2 separate regions of the Homo sapiens genome follow, and region 2 is linked to region 1. The links come from fine-mapping of genetic effects on gene expression. Tissue or cell type: whole blood. Region 1 holds a variant in brackets; the other region holds the start of a gene. All regions are shown on one strand. Distances are from middle to middle.

Region 1 (2,901 bases):
ATGTGTGTGGGGTTTTGCCACACCAAGCAATTCTCCAGTTGTTTGCAGATGCCAACTGGGTATTCAGTTCAGTTCTGACCCCTTCCATGTGGAGCTAGTATGGACCCTGCAGGTTAAGGGCTCAATCTCATCAGGCTGCCTTCACTTCAGAGGCCAGTTGCAAGAGGTGTCTTCAGGTTACCTGGAACTTCTGTGTGGCGTGGCTGCAAATCTGGTTTATTATATTAGTGGAGGGCATGATAAAAGATACAGGCAAGCAGCCAGATGGAGAGGTACATAGGGCGAGGTCTGGAAGGGTCCTGAGCACAGGGGCTTCCGTCTCTGTGGAGTTAGATGTACCCTCTCCAGGTGGGTGGATGCATCCACCAGCCAGAATCTCCCCAAACTCCAACTTGTAGGGATTTTTATGGAGGCTTCTTCACACAGGCATGATTGGTTATCAACACAATATCCAGCCCCTCTGCCCTCTTTGGAGGATGGGGTATGGAGCTGAAAACTCCAAGTTTCTGGTCATGGCTAGGTCTTTCTGGTGACCAGCCTTCATCCAGGAGCCACCAGAGTCACTTCATCAGCACAGAAAAAAGGTTTCCATCACCCAGCAAATACCAAGGGATTAGGAGCTCTGTGTTGGGAACCTCAATCAAAGACCAAATATCAGAACAAAAGATACTCCTAGCCCCGCTATCACTCAGAAAATTACCAGGGATTTAGGAGCTCTGTGCCAGGAACCAGGGACAAAGACCAAATATGTATTTTTATTATGTCACACAGCTGTTCCCTTCCCCCTTTTTAGTACACTTCTTATTTGGAGCAGTGGTGAGTAGAGTATGAGGAATTCTGACATACCCACACCCCACTTCCTCTGTTGTTAACACCTTACATTAGCATGGTACTTTTCATACATTAACATGATAGTTCTCCATTTGCAAAGCTGTAGTTTTTTCCTGCCATCCTTTTTCTGTCCCAGGATCCCATACTGCCTCACAGCTGTCATGTCTCCATGGACTCCTCTGGCTATGACAGCTTCTCAGACTGGTCCTGGGGTGGTCACGGCAGGTGGATAGTGGCCTGGAGCTTGAGAGCCCGATACGGGAGGGATTTGGGATGTGGGCTCTGAATTGGTGGGTTTGCATTAAAAAGGCACACTCATGAGCAAGTTGTTCACTATCTCTAGGAATTGGCAGCCCCTCCAGGGTCAGGAAGGCCCCAGATGTGAAAGCATCAGCATACAGAAAATAAGACATGGTGACTACATCTAGGTACCTCGTATAACTGGAATCATAGAATATTTGTCCTTTGTGTCTGGCATGTCACTTAACATCATCCAGGCTCATCCATGTTTTGGTATGTGTTTAGATTTTTTTTCTTTTCTTTTTCTTTCTTTTTTTTTTTTTTTTGAGGCGGAGTCTCGCTCTGTTGCCCAGGCTGGAGTGCAGTGGCGCAATCTTGGCTCACTGCAAGCTCTGCCTCCTGGGTTCACGCCATTCTCCTGCCTCAGCCTCCCAAGTAGCTGGGACTACAGGCGCACGCCAGTATGCCCGGCTAATTTTTTGTATATTTAGTAGAGACAGGGTTTCACCATGTTAGCCAGGATGGTCTCGATCTCTTGACTTCGTGATCCGCCCGCCTCAGCCTCCCAAAGTGCTGGGATTACAGGTGCGAGCCACCGCACCTGGCCGATTTTTTTTTTCTTCTTAAGGCAGACTAATATTCCGT[C/T]GTATGGATATACTATATATTGTTTATCCATTCAAATACGGACATTCCTCAACTTGGGATGGTTTGACTTTAGAGTTTTTGACTTTATGATGGTGCAAAAGCCATATACTTCCAGTAGAAATCTGTAACCCTGGCCAGGCATAGTGCCTCACGCCTGTAAACCCAGCACTTCCGAGAGGCCAAGGTGGGGGGCTCTCTTGAGGCCAGGAGTTTGAGACCAGCCTGGCCAACATGGTGAAACCCCATCTTTACTAAAAAAAATGGAAAAATTAGCTGGGCATGATGGTGCATGCCTGTTATCCCAGTTACTCGGGGGGCTGAGGCAGGAGAATTGCTTGAACCTAGTAGGTAGAGGTTGAAGTGAGCTGAGATAGTACCACTGCACTCCAGCCTGGGCAACAGAGAGAGATCATCTTAAAAAATAAAAATAGGAAAGAAAAGAAACTGTAACCCCATTGTAAGTCAGTCTTCCACTTATGGTGGGGTTATGTCCTGATAAACCCATTGTAATGTCAGAAAATCGTAAGTCGGGGATCATCAGCTATGTCACCAGCATTAAGTACATTTTTTAACTTATGATATTGTTGACTTAAAATGGGTTTGTCTGGACATGACCCTATCATAAGTGCTGGAGCATCTGTGTTTGTTTCTAGAGAAGATAAAAAATTCCACTTCATTTCTAAATCCCCTAGGAGTTCACTGGCCAATAGGACTCCCTTTGGGGGCTTTGGGGGCTTCTCCCATCTCGGCTAAGGGACAGCTCAAACAGGAAGGCAGGATAGGTCAAACTCATTTGCAGTAGGAGTTGGGTTGAATTGTGTAAGACAAAAGTACACTTTGTTATGTGTGATTAATTGTCACAGTTCCTGAATGTCAGCACGGACAGAGCAGCAGAGTTGGCTTCTGGGACACAGTTTCCATCTGCTGTCCCTGCCTGGAAGGAGGCTTAGGTGGCTTGCCTAGCATGGACTTAGTGACCCCATCTCCTCTCCTCCCGGAGCCAGGCCAGAGCGGCTTTGCCGAAGTCTCGGATGAACTGTCAGGCTGGAGCAGTTCTTCATCCAGGGGCTGTTTCCTGCTCTAATTACTGCTCTTTCTTCTACAGCTGAGAGGAATTGGTGGGTGGATGTGGGAGAGGTGAGCTAATGCGATGACATTTTGACAAGTGTGTTACAATAAAAAATA
Region 2 (2,901 bases), 100 kb before region 1:
ATCCTGTCTAAAGCTATGGAAGTAAATATAAATAAATAAAATAATTATCTGGCAGAGCTGTTTAGAGGATTAAATAATATATAGCACGCTCTTGGCCTTTTAGCCTCAACAAATACTACTTTTTTCCTTAATAATAACAGAAAGATCATACAACTTCACAAACCACAAGGACAGGCTGGCCGATAGGCAGGCCCCCCACGACTCTTCTGATGTTAGCCCTGACTGAACTCGCTGTGCAGCGTCCAACCAATCCTGGTTTGTGCTGGGCCCTGGACTGGAACCCAGCCCTTCCCGACGGGAACGCAAAGCGGCCACGAGGGGGCAGCGCACGGCAGGGAATCTTCGCCGCCGACCCCAGCCCACCGCCAAACTTCCCTGCTGCTCTCGGTCCTCCTGTACGTACTTCCGTTGCTCTGACGCTCCCAGAAGCCGGGGCGTCGGGAAGGAGAGCGCGAATTCACCCTCCTCTGCGCCTCCGTAGGAAAAAATTGGAGCGGGGGTTCACGAGACTGCGCCGCGGCGGGCGCTAGAGCCCCTCGCACAGCGTCGCCAAGGGTGCGGCGTGGAGCCGGGCGCCTGGCGCCAGGGTGCTGGTCGGCGGGCAGCGGCGCCAGCCTCCGACCCGCGACTCCGGCGAGCCAAGGCTGCGCCGGGAGGAGTCGGCGCGGGCCCCGGGGTGCCCCCTTCAACTGGAGCGCCTTCCCCTCCTGCCTTGCGGCGCATCCCCACACCTACACCGGAACGAAGCTCCGGGGCTGTCACTTCTGCGCGCTTCTCGGAAAGGAGTCTGAACTGGGAGCGCTCCGGGGGGTCGTCGGGGAGGATGCCCGGGCGTCGGCTGTGTCCCCAAGCTGCTCGCCGGCGCTGGCGAGGAAGGCAGTCGGGATAACGCCGCCCAAACTTTCCTTCGCAGCAGCGTTGGCAGGAAACGTCCCTCTCTGAGGCTCACGAAAAGCCGAAAAAGACTCGGACGCTTGGAGGAGGCAGGGCCAAGCCTGCGCAGGAGAGGTTCCCCGGAGCCCTGGAGATGTCCTAGGGGACCAGGCTAATCGCCGGCTTGCGCCCAAGCGAAGGGAAGTCCTGCAGGCACGGCGCCTCCTTCCCTGAGCCCCGCAGTGACCGTGACCTCCGCGCGCACCCCCGCGCACGTGCTCGCGGCCGAGGAAGAGGAACGGTCCTGCTGAATCCTCTGGAGGACAGCGACTAGCGAGCAGGCCAGGGGCGCATGGAGGTGCCGCGGGGGCGGTGCGGCTCGCCAGCTGCGCGGAGGAGCGTGCACGCCGCGCCCCGGCCTCCCCGGGGACCTGGCCGGCCGCTGCCCGCACTTCCTGCCGCTGGTCTCCCAGGCGCGAGCCGCCGCTTGCAGCACAGAACCCGTTGAGCTTCGTGCCCGGCAGCACCCCCGGTCCCCCGCGCGGGGCGGACTTGCGGCGGGACAGGTGTAGCCCGCAGCCGCAGGCGCTGCGCTCAGGACTGGGCGGGCTCGGCTGGCCGGTCCCCGCCACGCAGGCCGGTCCCCGCCACGCAGGCCGGTCGGTGAGCCACTTCGCACCGCCACAGCCCTAGCATCGGGCCACCAGCCGGGGTGAAGAAAGTCACGGCGGAGCCCGGCTCCCCAGTCCTGATGCTGGCTGCCGGTGGCGGGCTCCACGCCGGCCCCGGGACCTAGGCAGCCGCGCGAGACCGCTGCGGGCGCCTCCCCCATGCTGCTCGGAGCGTCCTGGCTGTGCGCATCCAAGGCGGCCGCCGCTGCTGCGCAGAGCGAGGGCGACGAGGACAGGCCAGGCGAGCGACGGCGGCGTCGGGCGGCGGCCACCGCCGCGGGGGCGGGCGAGGACATGGACGAGTCGTCGCTGCTGGACCTGCTGGAGTGCTCCGTGTGTCTGGAGCGCCTGGACACCACGGCCAAGGTGCTGCCATGCCAACACACTTTCTGCCGCCGCTGCCTGGAGAGCATCGTGTGCTCGCGCCACGAGCTGCGCTGCCCCGAGTGCCGCATCCTGGTGGGCTGCGGCGTGGACGAACTGCCCGCCAACATCTTGCTGGTGCGACTGCTGGACGGCATCCGTCAGCGGCCCCGCGCGGGCACCAGCCCCGGCGGCAGCCCGCCCGCGCGTCCCATCCCAGGCCAGAGTGCGGCCCCCACGCTCGCGGGCGGCGGGGGCGGCGCGGCAGGCAGCACCCCGGGTTCCCCGGTTTTCCTCTCCGCGGCCGCGGGCAGCACCGCCGGCAGTCTGCGGGAGCTGGCGACCAGCAGGACCGCGCCGGCGGCAAAGGTGAGTATCTGTCTCGGCGGAAGTGGCCACGGCACGTGGGAGTGTGTGGGTGGGTGCTTGGGCGTGGGGGGCAGTGATGAGGTGCGGAGGAGACCACGGGTGGTCCTGCGTTGGCCCACTCCGCTGTTGCTCTTCCTCCAACTTCGCTTGCTTGGTGGCGGCATCCGGCCCCTGGGCAGCTCGCCGCTTGTTCACGTGTGTCCCATCCTCCTGTGGAGTGGGCACGCCTTCCTGTCCCGTCGCTCACCCCCGATTCCTTGGCCGGACTTGTTACCCTGCCTCTTAAACTTAGCATCGCCCTTGCGTCTCCCTAGAAACGGGGACCTTCTTCCTCTGGGTCCCCAGACACTCCCTCTGCACACCCTGGGCCTGCCTAGAGAAAAGTTAGCCCTTAACGTTTCTGACAGGGCTCTGATGGCTGCTCTGGGAAGCCCGCGGGCCTCCTGCCTGCGGTGTGGCTAAGGAGGGGAGGGCAGAAGGCAGAGTGGGACTGGGGTTTGGAGGAATGCTTCTAGTAGTCTGGAAGGAGTTAATCTGGAGGCCCCAGGAGCCTTTTGACCCAGCCCTTTTGGACTTGGCAGTGTCTAACCAGAAGCCAAGGTCTTCTCCTGGGCTCCCAGGCAGG

What was found.
Region 2: it holds the start of SH3RF3, and the variant in region 1 is fine-mapped to the expression of SH3RF3 in whole blood (INTERVAL, PIP 0.95).

The regions. Positions count from the first base shown.
Region 1 is chr2:109,228,446-109,231,346 of GRCh38, forward strand. All of the region lies in intron 1 of SH3RF3 (SH3 domain containing ring finger 3), which reads left to right. It also overlaps a transcript of RANBP2 not described here. Among named protein-coding and RNA genes, the nearest start is that of MIR4266, 84 kb to the right of the region's middle. The variant C/T (reference allele first, on the strand shown) is at 1,717.
Region 2 is chr2:109,127,838-109,130,738 of GRCh38, forward strand. SH3RF3 (SH3 domain containing ring finger 3) reads left to right here and starts at 1,368. Exons shown (of 10, transcript NM_001099289.3): 1 at 1,368-2,276. The coding sequence starts at 1,704. It overlaps SH3RF3-AS1 (SH3RF3 antisense RNA 1), which reads right to left and starts at 2,282. Exons shown (of 1, transcript NR_029193.1): 1 at 1-2,282. It also overlaps a transcript of RANBP2 not described here. RefSeq lists silencers at 584-643, 1,024-1,093, 1,104-1,153, 1,184-1,383.